Regions from separate parts of the Homo sapiens genome. Here region 1 is linked to region 2. Evidence: fine-mapped expression QTL. Tissue or cell type: whole blood. Region 2 holds a variant in brackets; the other region holds the start of a gene. All regions are shown on one strand. Distances are between the middles of the regions. Region 1 holds the start of ESYT2 (extended synaptotagmin 2). Region 2 overlaps NCAPG2 (non-SMC condensin II complex subunit G2).

Region 1 (9,698 bases), 140 kb after region 2:
GAAATTTTACTAAATCCACAACATACAGGCTGATGGATTGCATATATCCTAAATTTAAATCTATTTTTTAGCTTAAACTAAAAACCTGATATTTACTGCTTTATTTTTAGCCATCTTGGGGCATTAATGTTCTAACTGAAGGAGGTTCTCAGACCACAGAACTGAAGCAACAACGGTCACATCCTTTCCCTTCTGTGTCTCAGCCGCAGTGTGGGTGTGAACAAGAAACCCAAGCAGCATCCTCATCCTATCTGCAGCTACGATGAGGACTCCAACACTTCCTCAACCACATGACCACTCGGATTCAGGTGCTGAAGAAGCACTTGTTTAAAATAGCTAAATTGTGGCTCCTGAATTAGCTATGCCAACTATTTTCAGTTACAAGTCTTCACAATATTTTATTAAAGTATTAAGTCAATGATTAACACTGAGAATAAAAAAATATTTGCCCTTTCTTTACATGAGATCACAGTGCATTATTTTCTTCTGTTCATTTAGTTCTTAGACTATACATACCATATTTTTGCTAGAGTTAAATTTTCCTGAACTTCCCAGAAGGGCAATGGGAAGAAAGCTCTCCCCAGAGAAAGTTTGTATACAAAAGTACAGAACAACATAACCAAGGAAGCTAATATGCTTTAATTCTCAATAATCCAAGTATGAGGGTAATAAAAGACCAACTGTCAGAACAGTTAAGTAGTATTATCCGTGACAGTATTATCCATAGCAGCCATACAATCAGCATTTATTGGCAATAGTAAAAGCAGGATAGAGTCAGACTTTATCCTATGAAGAGATAATATTTTCAAATAAATAAAAATAGTAATGAAAAATTGCCCTTATTAATCTCTATAAAAACTCTTCAAGAATCTTCCTCACAGCCCTGAGCATGGTGGCATGCAACTGTAATCCCAGCTACTTGGGAGACTCACGTAGGTGGTTCGCTTGAGCCCAAGAGTTGAGCCCAAGAGTTCAAGCCTGGGGAACACAGCGAGAACCGCCTCTCTTTAAAAAACAAAAAAGGCTGGGCGCGGTGGTTCATGCCTGTAATCCCAGCACTTTGGGAGGCCAAGGCTGGTGGATCACCTGAGGTCAGGAGTTTGAGACCAGCCTGGCCAACATGGTGAAACCCTGTCTCTACTAAAAACACAAAAATTAGCCAGACGTGGTGACGGGCGCCTGTACTCCCAGCTACTTGGGAGGCTGAGGCAGGAGAGTCGCTTAAACCCGGGAGGCAGAGGTTGCGGTGAGCCGAGACCATGCCACTGCCCTTCATCCTGGGCAACAGAGTGAGACTCCGTCTCAAAAATAAATAAATAAATGAAATAATAAATAAATAAATCTTCTCTTCTTCACCCAGGGTAGTCTAATGGTCCAGGGCCCATTACCACAGGGTAGACACTTAAACAACAAAAAGCCCTGTCCTCAATTCATCCAGCCTGCCAGGCCTTTCCCCTAAGCAGTTGGAACATAACTGTTCATGGGAAAAGAAGTGAAGAATAACAACACTGTTTATATTAAAGCTGTAGGACCAAACTTACAGAATTATCACAGTTAAGTGAGAGCCATCTGTCACATCCTAATAGCCTCAATCAGGAACAGTACATATAGTTTCTCAAAGTATTAATACTCTTATCTCATTTCCATATCCAGCTTCAGTTTTTACTCAGTAAGAAGAAAAGCTGTCAGTGAATATATACAAAGGTGAGGTGAGGAAATTAGTATCTCCTTAATTCATGTTTTCCTATGTTTCCACTCTGCCATGAATTCACGGTTGTCAACGACACACTATGAAAACAAGTACAGCCTTTGGGATGTACAGATACATCTTGTTCAAGGCAAAATACCAGTCCAAAGTTCAGAAACCCCAAGCACCAATGTATGTATGGTAAAAATCAAGGTACTAGTAATATTGGCCAGGCATGGTGGCTCACACCTGTAATCCCCACACTTTAGGAAGTCTAAGTGGGAGGATGCCTCGAGGCCAAAAGTTTGAGACCAGCCTGGACAACGCGGTAAGAACTCATCTCTAGAAAAAAAAAAAAACAAAAACAAACCCAAAGTGCAAGTAATACTGAAATCTTAACTTTTCTTATTCATAGTTTCTTCTATTATTGATGTGCTTTGACCACCCCCACCACCCCTGCCGCGCAGCAGAATTTCAGGCACACTTCGAGACCATGCAACCTGCTGGTTTTATTATGAAAATAAAGTATATTACACTTTTAATAAATATCACAAAATAGATACATAAGTATAATTTAAAAGATATTTTTAAAATCTCTCTAAAACTGTCAACATAATCACTGTCAAGTTTCATGTGAATCCTTCAAGAAGCGTCTTAAGCATCCTAGGCACACTGAAGTTTACACATGTGGGATTATGAGCTCAAGTACAAATTTGGAATAAACAAGTAAAACATTCTGGAGAAAATATAAATTCTTCATGAGGTGAACACCACAGTTCATCAGTTTAAGTCACACAGATTAAAAACTTGAAAAGAATCTTTGGCTAAATTACTTTTGTATTTTTTTTTTTTTTAAAGAATTTCAGGCTGGGCGCAGTGGCTCACACCTGTAATCCCAGCACTTTAGGAGGCTGAGGCGGGTGGATCACGAGGTCAAGAGATCGAGACCATCCTGGCCAACATGGTGAAACCCAGTCTCTACTAAAAATACAAAAATTAACTGGGTGTGGTGGTGTGCGCCTGTAGTCCCAGCTATTCGGGAGGCTGAGGCAGGAGAATGGCTTGAACCCGGGAGGCGGAGGTTGCAGTGAGTTGAGATGGTGCCACTGCACTTCAGCCTGGCAACAGAGCGAGATTCCGTCTCAAAAAAAAAAAAAAAAATTTCAGTTCTTCAATAGGGCAGCAATTTCATCTGTACAGTCTGTGTGGCCGGGCGCGGTGGCTCACGCCTGTAATCCCTGCACTTGGGGAGGCCAAGGCAGGCGGAACACAAGGTCAGGAGTTTGAGACCAGCCTGGCCAACATGGTGAAACCCTGTTTCTACTAAAAATACAAAGATTAGCTGGGCGTGATGGTGCACGCCTGTAATCCCAGCTACTCGGGAGGCTGAGGCAGGAGAATCTTTTGAACCCTGGAGGCGGAGGTTGTAGTGAGCCGAGATCACGCCATTGCACTCCAGCCTGGGCAACAGGGAGAGGCTCTGTCTCAAAAAAAAAAAAAAAAGAAAAGAAAAAGAAAATCTGTGTTTCACAAAGATTTTTAACAAGCAAATTTGATATTAGCCAATAACCAAGTATCTATGAAAGTCAGCATCATCACTTCCTGCAAATTTCAGCACTGATAACATTGCTATGTTATCAATATAACATAGCAATGGATGCTAATGGACTCTGTTTTTAGCTACTTTTTAGTATTATGCATCTTAGTGTAATATAGACACAAAACGTCACTTTAAAGTCCTTTTCCATTTCCAAAGTGCACCTCCTCTGTTCTTAGTTTTCCCCACCTCGGTTCCTCTTAACTTCCTTTTTCTACACACCCCTCGGTTTTTCCCGCCGCTAGCTAAAAGCTGCACCATGCCAGTTACCTTGGTTCTCCAAATATGACTCCCTCATGCTCACCACGCATCGGCAGAACTGTACATTCCCAAGCTCCTTACATTATATTCTTACTCCAGTTGCAATATGACGTCACAAAGTAGCATCTACTACCTTCTTCTTGTCTTGGGCACGCCTCCTTTCTAATTCTTGTTTGCCATCTGTGTCATGCCTTACTTCTCAGGTGTCTCATGACTGGAAACAGGGACTTTTCTCCTCTAAGAGAAAATGACCCTTCCGAAACCCACTGCTGGTCACCTTCACCCCAAAGTTTATATTAAGCCTAATGGAAGAATCATTAAAATCCTTTCTTGCAGTGTGAAACTGTGAAGCCAAGTCATGGCTAAGAAAGAATTAGGGAATGACAAGAAAAAGATTTGAAGCCAACTCTTCGTGTCTATAGTCCATAAATATACGAGGTAGAGAACTGCCGGGTTAAAAATAAAATAATACCATGACTCTTGTTATTGCTGCAACTCTTCCAAAACTTCCTGCCACACACACACACATTCACACTGGATTCAGGTCGATCCCATATAAAAATGCTCAGTCTCACAATTATACTTGCAAAAAAACTGAAACAATCTTTCAATTATCTAATATCTCCACATCTTTCGAGAGACACTTACTGCCCTTGAAATGCGTCAGAAACAACCAAGACACGAGTGCGTCTTCTCCCGGTAGAAGAAAAAGTTAACTTCTCCCCCACCAGCTGTCATTACGTTTTTTAAAAAACAGAGAGAAGGAAAAGCTGAAGCCACCCGGAGCATTTCCAGGCCGGCAGGGCTTTGGGAATGCGCACGAGAATCGCGCTGGGCGCTCTGAGAGCAGAACCGGCCGCTCAGGCCCCTAAGGAGACCCCGCGGGCGGCACCAGGAGGAAGCGCGCGCTCCGGGCAGGGCCGCGGCCGAAGAGGGGGCGCCAAGCCCGGTACCTGCCGCTGGCGCTCGGGGTCTGCAGGCCGGGGGAGGGAAGCGGGCTTTGTGAAGAGGGGTCTCCGAGAAAGCCGCGCGGGACGGCGAGGGGAGGCTTCACGAGGGCAGACGCGCCCCGGACCCGGAGCCTGGGCGGGCGGGGAAGCGGAGAAGGGGACGCCCGACTTGGACGGAGGGAGGGCACGGAGCACTCAGGACTAGGGCGGGAGCGGCGAGCAGCGGGCGGCGGCCCCAGGCGGACAGGTTCGCAGGGAGTGGGCCGGAGGCCGGGGCGGGGCTGGGGTCTGCACTCGCCCTAGCGGGCAGGTCGCCAGCAGGCTGGGAGTCGGGGCCGGGGGGCGGGGCGGGGTCTGCACTCACCTAGGTTGGCAGGTCGCAGGAACCGGCCCGGGGGCCGGGGCTGGGGTCTGCACTCGCCCAGGCGGAAGGGAAGCGCCTGCCTGGACCGGGGTGGGTGGGGGACTACGAAGGCGGGAGCCGGGGCAGGGCTGGGGTCTGCACTCACCCAGGCGGCAGGTCGCGGGGAGGGGAGTGCCTGCCTGGACGAGGGGAGATCGGGACTGGTGGTCAGGGGTCGGGACGGGCAGGGGTCTGCACTCACCCAGGCGGGCAGGTCGCAGGCGCGCACCCCCAGGCGCACGACGCGCTCCTCGTCTTCCAGCAGCGCCAGCGCGCGGCACAGGCGCAGGGCCTTGAGGCCGCGGCTGCGGCGACACCAGGCGAGCAGCGCGAGCGCGAGGAGAACCCAGCTGAAGCTGAGCCCCAGGTAGCCCAGCGCGTACACGGGCAGCAGCAGCGCGAAGCTCCGCGCCAGCTGCGCCAGCAGCCCGGGCAGCTCCACGCTCAGCACGCCCCCGGGGTTCTCAGGCGCCGCGCGGCCCCCAGCCCCGCCGGCGCCCGCCTCCGGGCCCTCGCCCCGGGCGCCGCTCATCGCCCCGCAGTGCCGCGCTGCCCTCCCGGCCGAGGCGGGCTGGGTGCTCGCGCTGATCCCGGGCGGCTCAGCCCCGCGCCAGCGCCCCTCTGAGGGGACGCGGCTCCGCCGCACGCCCGCCTCCGCCCGGGACGGTGGCGTCATCACGCGGGGCGGGAGCGGCGTGGGCCTGGGGCTGGCACGTCACCGGGAGCGGGCGGGGTGGATACTGACGTCATCGCGCGGGGCGGGCCGTGGGCCGGGTCGGAGACTACTGGAGTGGGCCGGGCAGGCGCACGACGTCATCACGCGAGCGTTGTGTCTCGGCTGGCGGGAGCCGGGGACGGGAAAGGAGAGTGCTCGGTGCGTGGGCTGGGCGTGCCTGCGTCCCCTCGAGCCCCACGGGGCACCCTCCCCACTTGCCTGTGGCCTCGGAGCCCGCGGGCGGTTTTGGCTCGGCGTCGCGCCCCGAGGCGGCTTCCGGGTGCGTGGCTGCGCTCGCCGAGGCCCGGGAAGTTGCCGTCGTCAAACCCAAAGGCTGACCGCCTCTGGGAGCTGCTGGCAAACGTGGGGGTGCGCGGCCGCTGAGCGCAGCCGGGGTGGCGGTGGGATGAGAGGGCGGCGTCCCTGTTTGCGGTCATTTTGCGGCCAGGAGGACGGGTGAGAGGGCGCCGCCCGCCGGAGGTCGGACGGGCGCCGCTGGCGGGAGTCCTCCGGTATTTTTCGGTGTGAGGTTGCCTAGCCAGTGTGCAAGGTTGTGGCTTTTGCGGAGTCTCTCGGGACGGTCTTGTTATCGGGCATTCCGGCGTGAGAACGCTGCCTCTGGGGCCCTTCCCACCCTGCTTGTCAGGGTTTTAAACACAAACGACTCCGTTGTGACCTTGACAACTCTCACACAGTTCAGTTGGCTTTTAAGATGCCTTTAATCCCAAAAGTCCTCCCTGAGGGGTCTGGTAGTGCCGGGCAAAGACCACCGCAAGCGCCCAAGGGACGCTGTTGACACTCGGGAACTCCACCCCGGGCACCACGCAGCTTCGCCGAAGGTGTTAATATTGTGGCCAACTATGAATAGCTGTTTCAAACGACTAATTTTGGGCCTTTCCTGTGATTCCTGAGGTCACTTTTCAGTTAACTCAAAAACACAACTATTGATCACTTTACTTTCCAGTGAATTCAATCGAGTTAATTATATTTGTTCTGTAGTTTCTTTCAAGGAAACTCCAAGCCAAACAGTAGCAAAGAACATCCTACTTGACTGTTTTTGAGCATATTCAGTGAATTCCAAGGAAATTTTTACTGAATTTGTAACAGAGTAGGGCACTGGCAGGTACTGAATGAATAAACAAATGCCCAGAAGAAGCAGGGTCACCTTTACATAGGAATCTGTCTCCCCTCGTTCCTGCGTCTTCATAATTTTGTGTGCATATGTATGTGGAGATTATATCACATATGTAAAACATTGCAGAGTCTAAACTCTCAACTCCAGGCAAGGGCAGTAAACCCCAAGCAAGGAATGGAAGTGGTTTCCCTTTTCTTACTCTTCACAGTCCCTGGTTTGCTGCAGCAACAAATTATATTATGTAGATTGTAAATATGCAACCGGTTAATGCTCCTAACACCACCTTTCATTCAAAACTAAGCCTCAACACAAAAGCAAGTAATTGCTTTGTTGACACAGAAAGGAGCCTGAGCCTTTCTTTTGCAGCTTTCCTCTACTGGAAAATTGTAGGATCACATCCTACAAAGACTTGCATAAACATAAGCCACGTAAAAAATTCTGTAATCCCAGCACTTTGGGAGGCCGAGGAGGGCAGATCACGAGGTCAGGAGATCAAGACCATCCTGGCCAACATGGTGAAACCCCGTCTCTACTAAAAATAACAAAAAATTAGCCGCGCATGGCGGCGCGCACCTGGAGTCCCAGCTACTCGGGAGGCTGAGGCAGGAGAATTACTTGAACCCGGGAGGCGGAGGTTGCAGTGAGTCGAGATCGCACCACTGCACTCCAGCCTGGGCGACAGAGCAAGACTACGTCTCAAGAAAAAAAAAAAAATCCTGTGCCATGTGCCATCCAGTGGTTGACCCAAGGATGTAAACTAGATTGAAGAGAAGTTTCCATGTTGCATACCAGTCAGCCCAAGTGTCCTCAGCTTCCCTCTGTGTGAGCCCCGGGTTTCCAGCCCCTCCCTGTGGTTAATTGCCTGCAGAAAGCAGATCCTAAGGCTCTGCCACAGCTCAGTCTTACAGGTGTCTGGTCTGACTGCAGGTCCAGCTCGGCTCTTAGATTTTTGCTAATATTATACCCCTCAATCTCCTGTGACCTTTCATGACCCCTCCATCCTTTCCTTCTTGTAGACAAGGAGAAGTGCTGCTTTCTCTGGAGTGTCATTCCGAGTGCTCCGGTGCACAGCTGCGAAGTTCCAGCCTTCCTGGTTTCAGAGGAAAGTGCTATCTTGTGCTTAGGTTCAACTCTTCCTGCTTTTGGGTCCTCCCCCACACCTCTAAATACGTCTCGTTATGGAGGGTGGGAGCACGTGCTCTGCATCTCTTCAATTTGGAGGTTATACCAGCAAATTAAATATACTGGGGACAGTGAAAGCCAGGTTTCTTGCTGTTGGAGAAGGTAAAAACATGGAAGAGGGAAGGCTAAAAAGAACACTGAGGGATTGGATTGGAACTGGAAGTGGTAGTATGAACTCATTTTTTTAAAATATGTATATACAGATAGATATAAAGATAGCTGTATGTGTGTGCACACATGTGTAGGTATATGTGCATATAAACACAGAAATAGTTTCTAGTTCTGTCTGCTGAGTATCTAGATGCAATGGTACCCCAGTACCAGTGATCACAGCTAGCCCCCAGATCTTATCTTCTAAATAAGGTTTTCCAACAAAAGGAATCAGGGCTCTTTGGAGAAATGGTTAATTTCAGGGCTGGAGTGGAAGTACAAGATGATCCTGGAATAATTTTGTTGTTCAAGGAAGTGAAGAAGTGCTCAAAGATTGACAGGAGATCAAAGGACATGGAAAGTAGTTGGAGGGAGTTCTTGCTGGCGAAATCTAGGACAATTTGAGCAACAAAACAAAGAATGATATTGGCAGATTACCACTGAGTGAGCAAAATAGAAACGCATGAGTTGAGTCCACACTGATGTAGATCAACAAACCAGTGATGAATGCAGGGAAAATAATAGTGGAGAAGGGGAGGTTCTTCTTTACAGTAGAATGTGAACTCATAAATGGAGAAGGAATTATGAGAATGGAAATAACCATTTACCAATCACTGTAGTGGGGTTGTTGCAGGAGTGAGAATGGAAATAACCATTTACCAATCACTGTAGTGGGGTTGTTGCAGGAGTGAGCTATCAATGGAGGCTCAGGGTGGTAGGTGGAGATTTGATGAGGAATGAGAATGGACATCTTTCTTCAGCATACTTTTCCATTACAAAGAGGAAAATTGAGACTTTCTGGTGGGAAACACCAGCAGACACCAGCGTGGCCAGGTAATGAGACACCTGTCACCAGTGGAGAAAAGTTGAAACTGAGTCCCCGTGCACTGTGCTGAGAAGAGCACAGCAGCACGCCTGACACTTTTCTGCCAGAAACCACAGCCTCAGTCTAGCCTAGGGAATATCAGATAGACCCAGAAGGAAGGCCATTCTGTTTTCTTTATTACTGTCATGAGCCAGGAACAGTGGCTCACGCTTTGGGAGACTGAGGCAGAAGGATCACTTGAGGCTGGGAGTTCGAGACCAGCCTGGGCAATGTAGTAAGACTCCATCTTTACAAAAAAAAATCTTAAAAATTGCCCTGGCATGGTGGCACGAGCCTGTAGTCCCAGCTACTAAGGCTGAGGCAAGAGTATTGCTTGAGCCCAGGAATTCAAGGCTGCAGTGAGCTATGATTGCACCACTGCACTCTAGCCTGAGTGACAGAGGGAAACCCCTTCTCAAATAAATAAATTGTCATAAGAGACAGGATAAGACTAAGAATTGTTCCAGATTATATGAGACTGAAGAGACATAACAACTCCATGCAATGCATGTTCCTGGGAGGTCCCAGACATGGGAAAAGAAGTGTGGGCACAGTTGGTGAAGCTTGGGTGGGGTCTATGGGTTGGACAATGTATTGATATTGATTTCTCCACTGGGAAGGTTGTGTAGTGGAGGTGATCCTTGTTTTTAGAGTATTTGGGGGTGCCGTGGTTTGAATGTGTCCCTTCCAAAATTCAGATGTTGAAACTGAATGGCCAAGGCCAGGTGTGGTAGCTCACCAGTAATCCCAGCA
Region 2 (9,698 bases):
TCTTTTCCAGTCAGAATCTTCCCAAAATTCTTTGTAGCCTCATGTCCCTAACAACAATTAATTTTGCCTTACTTCTCTATTCACACCTTTTGGGGCTAAACTTTATTAGTGAAACATGAAAATTTTGAAAGATTAAACAGGCTGTAAAAGAACAGCCTACACTTTAAGTGAGCTTGTATCAACTTAACCCTAGAAGAGCTGCAGTATGGGGATTATTTTTTTCTGATTATTATTTTGTAGTTTGTATTGATGGTGATAAGTGACATTAGTCTATAGTTTGCTTTTTGTGTACAATACTATCAAACTTTGATATCAACAGTACACTTGCTTCATAGAAAAATTTTCTAAACAGCTTAAGACTTAATTCACATGCCACAAAATCTACTGTTTTAAAGTATACAATTCAGTGGCTTTCAGTATATTTAGAGCTATGCTACCATTGTTACTGTCTAATTCTAGAACATTTTCATCAACAATGTTGAGATTTTTAATTTCAAATGATGTCTGAAGCACTGCCTGAAACCTCTTTCAATATCAATAAAATGACTTATCAGATAAATTTAATAGTTATCAAATAAAAACAATTTGAGGAAGAAACTATAATGTGTTATAAGTTGTGACAAAAACAATTACTTGGAGTTGAGTAACACGTTTCACTTGAGTGAAATCTAATATTCTCCCTTTAAATTCTTTTTGTGCATTTTTCCATAAATTTACCAAATAGTGATATCTATACTTATAATATCTTAATTACTCAGACTACCACAGCAAAAATAACATATGAAAACATACATAGTTTACATATAAACTACACATATAGTTTACATAAACATAGTTTACATAAATACATAGTTTAATGCAATTCTACTAAATAAAATTTGAAACACCAACTCATCTATGTGAAATAAATAACCCAAACTGACTACAACTAAATAAAGCCACACTGGGATGGGGGTGGGGGGTGGGTAGGACAGGGAGTTCATTGAATATATTTATCCTAAATATATGCAATCACGATTTTTAAATCCTCTGGAAAACTCAGTAGTCTAGATAAATCTCTGGGTTCTTTATCCTTGTGTAACTGAAATTAAATCATCAATAATGCAAAGAAACATTTTCTTATCCACTCAAAATTAATATAATTAGTATATTTACATTCTATAAATAGCAGTAGTTTCACTCTACAACAAAACAAAGAAATGAGTAGTCTTTATTCACTTGGTTTCTTGACATATGGTTGCCAAAACTAACAGCAAGCAAACAAGGCATCCCATGGGTTAGAACACTGATCAACAGCAGCTGCTTAATTTAAATAAACACAGCAGACCAGATTTTCCCATTCCTCCTGCCAGGATCCTTAAGATCCATCAAACACCTATCAGTGTAGTAATGGCACTGATGATAGAATCTTATCTAGTCAGTCCATTTACAATTATTAATATAAAGGTAAAGTTCATATCTAAATTCTGAGATTAATCTAAATTCTGAGATTACCTTTACAGAACAAAATATCAAAAGAAACAATCAAAACATTTATTCATTTGGTTTGCAGAAGAGCAAAATTGGAATTTAATAAGTAAAATAATAAAAATAATTTCAAATACCCTCTAGGATCTTTGAAAAAAATGATAGTGGCCATTAGAAACCAATAATTCTGGAAAATCTCAAGACAGAGAATTGAATTTAAGGTCATTCAAATACAATACTAACCATCTCAACAATACACCTTTGCTTTCCTCATTAAAACTTTGGTGGCAGGAATAAAACTGCCAGACATCAAATATCAAGGTTCTGAGAAATCCCCCTAACTGATGTCTGTGAAAGCTTAATTTTAAAATTTAACCAAAACAATTATCTAAAAACAAAACAGAGGAAACATTATTTCAAAAACAATCTGTTCACAATCTTACCTCCCGCACTTTGGAATGCACTGGAGACCTCCTCGGAAGGTGTATCCCGTGGAACATGAAGTCCTGGATGCAATCATTTTCAATCGCCTGAAATAACAAATGCAATGCAAAGCACTTGGTGTGTGTGTGTCCTACTGACGACCTGACAAGCAGTGCGGCATTTGAGTACAAAGAGTCTGACCTGTCCATCTTATATTTCATGAGAAAAAAACCTGGACCCTTTTGTCCAAGCTTTCTTATTTTAAGTCCATGCTTCTTAGAATCCCTTTGGTTTTCTTATAGCAAGGAGAATGCTTTGCTTCTCTTTTATTTGATGAAATATCAAATCTGTGCCAAATGGCAATGTAAGATTCCACCTACCACTCAAGGCTAGTTCAAATCAGACAAATTTCAGAGACTGAGTGCATGGTGAGTGTGGAGCCCCCTCTTCTGACTCATCACTGACCTGGACAACCTTCAGAAGACTGGATTTGTTCCAACAGCCTCCACAGAACAAAAACAGAACTACCTCTACGGCGGAAACTGTAAATAAGATATTTCAGGGCCACTGTTGACAAGGGCTGAGCAAGGAAGGTGTGTGGGAAGCCCTTCATCAGCCCCATGCACTAATGGTACTCAGAGTGCAGCAACTGGGAAAAGGCCTAGCCTCTAAGAGTAGCAAAAAACCCCAGTGGACCCTATGTCTGTACCTGTACTCTGTGCCCACCCTCACACATGAGCAGGATTTCTGTGGCTTTGAGGAAGGACCTAAGGAAACGCTCCTAGGGTTAATACTAATACAAACCAGAGTCTGCAGATGCTCAAGTTCCTCTTCCCCATTATATTTGAAAATATTTCCTTCACCTGAAGTCACTTAGCATCACTTAATGTGGGACAACCACACATTGTCTGACTTGCAATGAAAGATGAGATACACAGCACTACCTGGGAAGTTATTTGTACCATAAAAGTTGAATCCAAACCTTTAGAGCTAACTATCAGTATGCCAACATTCTACAGGACAACTGGTCCAGTTTCCTCACATGCCAATGGCATAGATTTTAAGAAAAGGAAAGGAGGGAGGAATGCTCTAGAATAAGCGATTTTAATGGTATAACAAGCAAATGCCATGTGGGCAACTTGTTGAGTCCTAATTCAAAAAAACTCTAAGGAGACATTTGAGATCACTGGAAAAATTTTAATGTGGCTTGATTATTTTTAAAAATACCAAGGATTTACTGTCACATTTTTAGGTCTTACAATGGCATTCCATAAGCACATTTTTGAGAGATGAATAAAGTAGTATGTAGAAATGAAATGTCAGGTCTGGAATTTGCCTGAAAAACTTAAAGAGAGGGAGGGCAGAGAGGAATGGAGTGAGACTGAGAAATACACATTGTTGATACCAATTTTGTATACATCTAGTCAAATAGTTTTTATTTTGTTTATTTTTCTGTAGAGACAGGGTCTCGCCATGTTGGCCAGGCTGGTCTCAAACTCCTGACCTCAGGTGATCCACCCTCCTCGGCCTCCCAAAGTGCTGGGATTACAGGCGTGAGCTACCACGCCCAGCCTATTTTTTATTTTCTAGAAGTCAGTGATAAACCTTGGCAATACAAATCAAGTGTAAGTTGTGCAGAGGAGCAGAGAGGATGGAAGTAAACCCAGACATGGGGCAGCCTCTGTCCACTCTGCAGGTTCCTCCCTCTGCCCATCAGTGCAGGGCCTGCTCTCCAAAGAGGAATGAAAAGTCAGGATAGAACACAGGGTTGTGAGAGGCTCCTTTCTGACCTAGAGTAAAAATTTTATTCTCAGAGAAAAATAAAATGATTGAGAACCTGGTATAAGAAAAATATAAGGGAAAACAAACACACTTTTTTGTCCAAAAGGGTATCTGGATGTTGAGTTGGGATTGTGGATTACATAGCCCTATCTTCATAACATAAATACTATGTATTCACCAGAGTTACCCATAATCAAAGAAAATATCTTCAAATTCTCAAAAATAATGTAACTAAAAGAGGTGACTTGAAGTCCCTGAACGGCACTATCCAATAGAAACTGAATGCAAGCCACAGATGCAATTTTAAATTTTCTAGTGGCTGCATTAAAAACAGACAAAAGAAACAGGTAAAATTACTTCAATATTACACAGTCATCCCTTGGTATCCATGGGGGATCAGTTCTAGGACCTCCCTCAGAGACCAGAATCTGCGGATGCTCAAATTCCTCATATAAAGTGGAGTAGTATCTGCATATAACCTATGCACTCCTGCACACTTTAAATCATCTCTAGATTACTTATAATACTTAATACAGTGTCAATGTTATGGAAATAGTTGTGACACTATATGTGTAGGGACTGATGACAAGGAAAAAAAAGTCTGTACATGTTAAGTACAATGCATTTTTTTCCCAAATATTTTCGATCCTTGGTTGATTGAATCCATGGATGCGAAACCCACAAAGGGCCAACTACCACATTTCGCCTAATACATCCAAACCACTAACATTTCAACATTCACTCAACATTTTTAAAAAGTACTGAGATATTTTATATTCTCATTTCCATATGAAGTCTTTGAAATCTGGTATGTTTCTTACACTTACAACACATCTTGATTCAGACTGGCCACGTTCCAAATGCCCAGTGAGCACATGGCTGGAAAGATCAGGGTCAGAGCTCCCTCCCAGCTGAAAGAGCACAGTCCTACCTCCCACAAACCACACATCTTAGCAAGTGACTGGATTGCCCATCAAATAGATTTTCATTATTTGGCTTTATTTTGACAGAGTGCATAAACATGGATCTTAAATAACCCTTCTTTGACTACTTATTTAGTAACTAAAATATAATAAAAATAAGTGTTAACATTTAAAAAAATGAAAATACCTCCAGTATTTTCCCTGAAGCCTTTTTCCAAGCTCTGAAATAAATTTCTGCAATGTATACCATCAAAGACCTATATAAAAAGATCAAAATAGTTTTAATGCAAATTTTAAGAATTATTCTTTCAACATGTATCATTTCAGCTACTCTCCAACCATAGTGAAGAAGAAACTCAGTTTAAACTAGTGCTTTGCAAATCATCTATAGAAATAGGTTATCTACCTGTAGCAAAAAGTAGAAAACGGAGAAGGTTTTGGGAAAGGAAACTGAAGTGACGAACTATTTCATCCTTCTCAGTCAAGGCTTACCCAAAACTTTACTATTTTCTGTGAAACTATGAGTGCATAAGTCCAGAACAAAATTCTAAAGTCAAAAATATTTAAATATAAATAAATTGTCGACTTGGAGTCACGTTGGACTTTTCACGCTACCAATTCCTGAGGTACAAGAAGCCCTAAAATACCAGTATCAACTTAAGAATCATAAGCTTAGAAATCTATTAGTTCAACTCAAATATTCTGAAGATGAGGAAATATGAAAAAGCAATCTAGTATACAACAGGAGCTTTGCAATCAGAGATCCAGAATCAGATCCCAACTTGGTACTTATACAGTTGCCTGACACTGGGAAATTTAGAAAGCAAAGCCTATCTCAAAAGAGAGTTGTGAGGATTAAATTTTAAAATGGAGACTAAGTACTCAGTGCTGGAGCAAATGAAG[T/G]ACTCTGCCTTGTGCCTGGCAAACGACAAGCACACACTTGACATCTCCATCACGCAGGGAGTGGCAGAGTCATGACTGCAACGTTCCCTGCTGCTCCTGCAGATTCCACAGGCTCTTCCGAGAAGCCACCCTGGCCAGGCCACGTTCAACCAAAAAGCACACATTGCATTCAAAGTACCATGGACATGGCTTTATTACGAGCGAGGCTAAGGTTCAACTGGAAACTATTTTAACTATTTAAAGAACTACCACAAATTAAAACCTTAATTTCAGTGGTCAATACTGGAAAAGAATGATTTCCTATAAAAGGAAAAAGCTACCCAGTGATCCAATGGTACATAATAAATAACGTATTTCTAAAGCTTCTAATCCATTACTATAACTTAAGAAGTCAGACCAAATGGAATCTTTCAAAACCAGATTAAGACAGCACAAAATCTTCAGTACTTTTAACACTTACTTTTGTAATCCCTGTAACTGGTTTTTAATGGTCCCGTGGATCATTTTGATGAAGTTGATATTCCAGTTGAAGAGACAACTAAGAAATCTTCTTCCCTAGAAATAAAAAAGGATAGAATGTTTACATTGCAACCAAATAAAAAGTGCCAAATAACAAACAATTATTTGAACGTCTAGTAAGCTAAACATTGCTATTGCTAAAAACGAGGCACATGTAATTATCACTGAGAGCACATGCACGAGTTGAGCTGTCTGCGGGGCCTGCACAGCCAGGAGCCACACAAGCCACCTCCCCCAGGGCCGAGCAGCCGCTACACTGAGCGCCTCTGTCCTCAAGGGCCACAGGTGCAGAGATGGAGACCACAGACAGTAACCATGGGTCCATAAACATCTCATTCTGGCTCTGTCATGGATGGTTCCATAGTCTCAAATGAAAGAAAGCTTTAAATCTAGCATAGGTGGGTGGGAATGGAGTTGAATATCCCAGTTCATTTCACCTTCTCATTTATAGATGAGAAAACTGAGGACTCATATAGTTAAAAGGCTAAGTGTTTGTCAAGCTAGAATTTCCAAATACACAGTCTTCAAGTCATAAATACATCATGTGATGATAATTTATATGCATGCTACTAGATTATGTATCTGAACCTAAGAAGAATGAATACAATCTTCATACTCTATAGAGTGCATAAGATGCATCTATCTAGAACTCTCTCAGTGAATAGCACCTTCATCTCTTACCAGCACACCACTGCACAGAACTGGAATCCTACAGAAATGCAATACATTTTGATTCAAATGCAGGGTAACCATGCTCACAACAGGCAAGTTAAAAAAAAAAACAGTAATATTCACTGGAAGTAATCTGTTAGTACAGTACAAGATGTTTATGGTTTACCCAGAATGACTGGAAACTGACCTGACCAAATTAATGATTGATTAGGAAACTACATTTAGATATCTTAAATTCAAAGGAGACATCAATTTTTTAAAAAGGGTAGAGGTTATAACACATACATACATTTATGTCTGTTATATATCTGCACACATATATAAGTTAACAAGTACGATTCATCAACTCCTTATGTATAAGTCAACATAAAATAGTTTATTGTTTGAATCCATCATTAATTTCTTCACTCTCCCATTTCAGAACAATCCTGGAGACATGTGTGGGGCACAGGCTGTGTCCAACATCTTTGTAATAACGATGGTGCTGACACAGCAAGGATGGCAAAGGGCAGCCCTCCCCAGGGGTTCTTATCCACCAGCGCCTGGGCTGCGGTTTGATACATATTACCTCATCTGTTCCTAACAACAATCCTGTGAAACAGTAACTGTTGCTCCTATTTTACAGAACAAAACTCTGAGGCTGAAAGGCCTGACCAAGGGCACCACCTATAAAGTGAACAAAGACCCTGGGAGCCAAAGGTCTCAGTCCTAATCACATGGCCCTTTGTCTAGCAGACTGCAGATGGCTCGCCGGGGTCCAGTTCTGTCTCTGCCGCTGAGCAGCTGTGACACCTGGAGGAAACTTATTCTGTACCTCAGAGCTGGTCCTCCTCTTCCTCTGAAGCCCTTCTCCACCTCCTTCAGGGAGGAGGGATGACTTCCTCCTTCTGCCTCAGAGATGTGCCTGCTGAGCCATGAGCATCCAAATGCAAAAGCTTGTTCTAGTCTCCCCTGGCACTGCCTGAGCATGTAGTCGACGCTCAGTAAACAACTGCAGAAGGCCCCTAACACAGAAGAACTATGCGAGCCTCTCTGTAATTCTCAATTCTTTAGTAGTCATGTTAACAAAAGTAAAGAAGATTAATTTTAATAATATATTTTATGTAAAGCAATATTTAATATAACAGACAATAAAAATATTGTCTATTATATTAAGTATAGAACAAAAATTATTAATGAGCTATTTTATGTTCATTTCTTTCCCACTAAATCTTCAAATCCATGTGTATTTTATACTTATGGCTAATCTCAGTTCAGTTGGGTCCCATTTCAGGTGCTCAGTAGCCTCATATGGGAGTTGACCCCAGGACGGGCAGTGCAGCAACAGGCCAGAAGCCTCTCTGGATTTACAGGATGGGTAGAAAAAAGAAAGGGAGGATATTATGGGATGACAGTTTTGAGTACATGGCAATTAAAATGGAATTAGGGCAGAAGGCCAGATCTCATTCATAGAGAAGTGCTTTCTCAACCTTATTTTTAATCATTCTTAATTTAAAATGTAATTACGGTTCCCCTAGGTAACACACAGCCACCTGTTACCATCCAATTTAATGATGAAATAAGCAAGGACTTGTAAAATGTCTTCTCTAGTACTGCCATGCAGTAAAAATCATGTGCAGTAAATAGCTCCTGGTAGCTAAGCAACACCGAGCATGGTGCAGACAGGAACCATGTGAACACAGGAGAAACATCTATTAAGAAGCAGCTCACAAACAGATCAAAAAACAAATACCTATTTACCTCTTCTTTCTTGATATAATTAATATTTATGAAGCACTCAAGTAACATATCTTTAATTTCTCCACTTTCCTCCAAATCATAATCAAAGCAATATAAAGCTTGATGGATACGCCAAAGCCGACATACGTCTGCACCCTAGGAATGACACAAAAAATGTGATACCTTTTTCAATGAACAGTAAAGTCATATTTCAAATCAAGTATATTTTATATCATAAATAATGGTAATTCTAGTTGATTCATCAAAGATTAAAAAATAACGACAAATAAAAACAGATTTTAAAATTTGCAAATGCCCCCTATAGCTCTACAGAACATTTTTTTAAAACATAAGGAAAATAATTAAAAATCCAGCAAGTTTAAGAACTTCCTCGATGATGAAGATTTTATACATCTGAACTGTCTAGTGCAGTAGACATTAGCCACATTTCACTGTAGAGCTACTAAAATGTGACTAATGCAACTGAGGAACTGAATTTTTCATTATTTTTAACTTTAAATTTAAACAGCTTTCTGTGGCAAGTGGCTACTACGTTGAATAGCGCAGGTTTAGAATGTTAGGAAGACGTTTAAAAATAAAGTCCTAGCTAGGTGGTGCACTCCTGAAGTCTCAGCTACTTGAGAGGCTGAGGCAGGAGGATTGCTCGAGCCCAGGAGTTTGAGGCTGCAGTGAGCTATGATCATGCCACTGCACTCCATCTGGGCAATAGAGAGAGACCCTGTCTTTAAAAAAATAAAAAGTGAGCATACTGTCTTAGTCTCCAGACTCCTCCTTAGTAACATGACAAAGGCTGTCTTTCCTGTGTCTTCCTTGGCAGGCAGGCCTTTCTCCCACCAGGTAACACACAAATCCTGAATAGAACTCTGTAGTTTTCGTTCAGACTCAGGTAATGCATATAAAATACCTAAAATACAGCACAGTAATTTTCCAATTAGTAAGGCAAATTCTTATTACTTCAGAGTCAACAGTTTAGAGTATCATGACTTTATATATTATTTAAAGCTTTGCTAAGCAAATAATATTAGTTATGTTTAACTTGCCAAAGATTTATATACATTAGTTATAAAATGCAAATAATGTTAATTAAAAAACTGTTTGACGATTGTTATAAAAAGACCCTCAACAGACATAATAGAAAAGAGATTTTTGGAACTGGAAGTCTCAGAGAAATCGTATCACCAATTTTAGAAAGGCAGATGCTGAGGCTAACCAAACCTCAGTGTAACAACACCAATGGTATCTCTGTTAACACCAGAGCCAAGACAGGTC

The links.
Region 1: ESYT2 starts here. The variant in region 2 is fine-mapped to the expression of ESYT2 in whole blood (INTERVAL, PIP above 0.99).

Annotation. Positions count from the first base shown.
Region 1 is chr7:158,823,989-158,833,686 of GRCh38, forward strand. ESYT2 (extended synaptotagmin 2) reads right to left here and starts at 5,521. Exons shown (of 23, transcript NM_001367773.1): 1 at 5,101-5,521. The coding sequence starts at 5,430. RefSeq lists enhancers at 4,295-4,364, 6,375-6,484 and silencers at 4,485-4,684, 4,765-4,814, 4,905-5,094, 5,145-5,244, 5,335-6,064.
Region 2 is chr7:158,681,390-158,691,087 of GRCh38, forward strand. It overlaps NCAPG2 (non-SMC condensin II complex subunit G2), which reads right to left. Exons shown (of 28, transcript NM_017760.7): 5 at 9,179-9,333; 6 at 8,430-8,564; 7 at 5,959-6,053; 8 at 4,783-4,852; 9 at 1,911-1,997. Among named protein-coding and RNA genes, the nearest start is that of NCAPG2, 19 kb to the right of the region's middle. The variant T/G (reference allele first, on the strand shown) is at 5,499.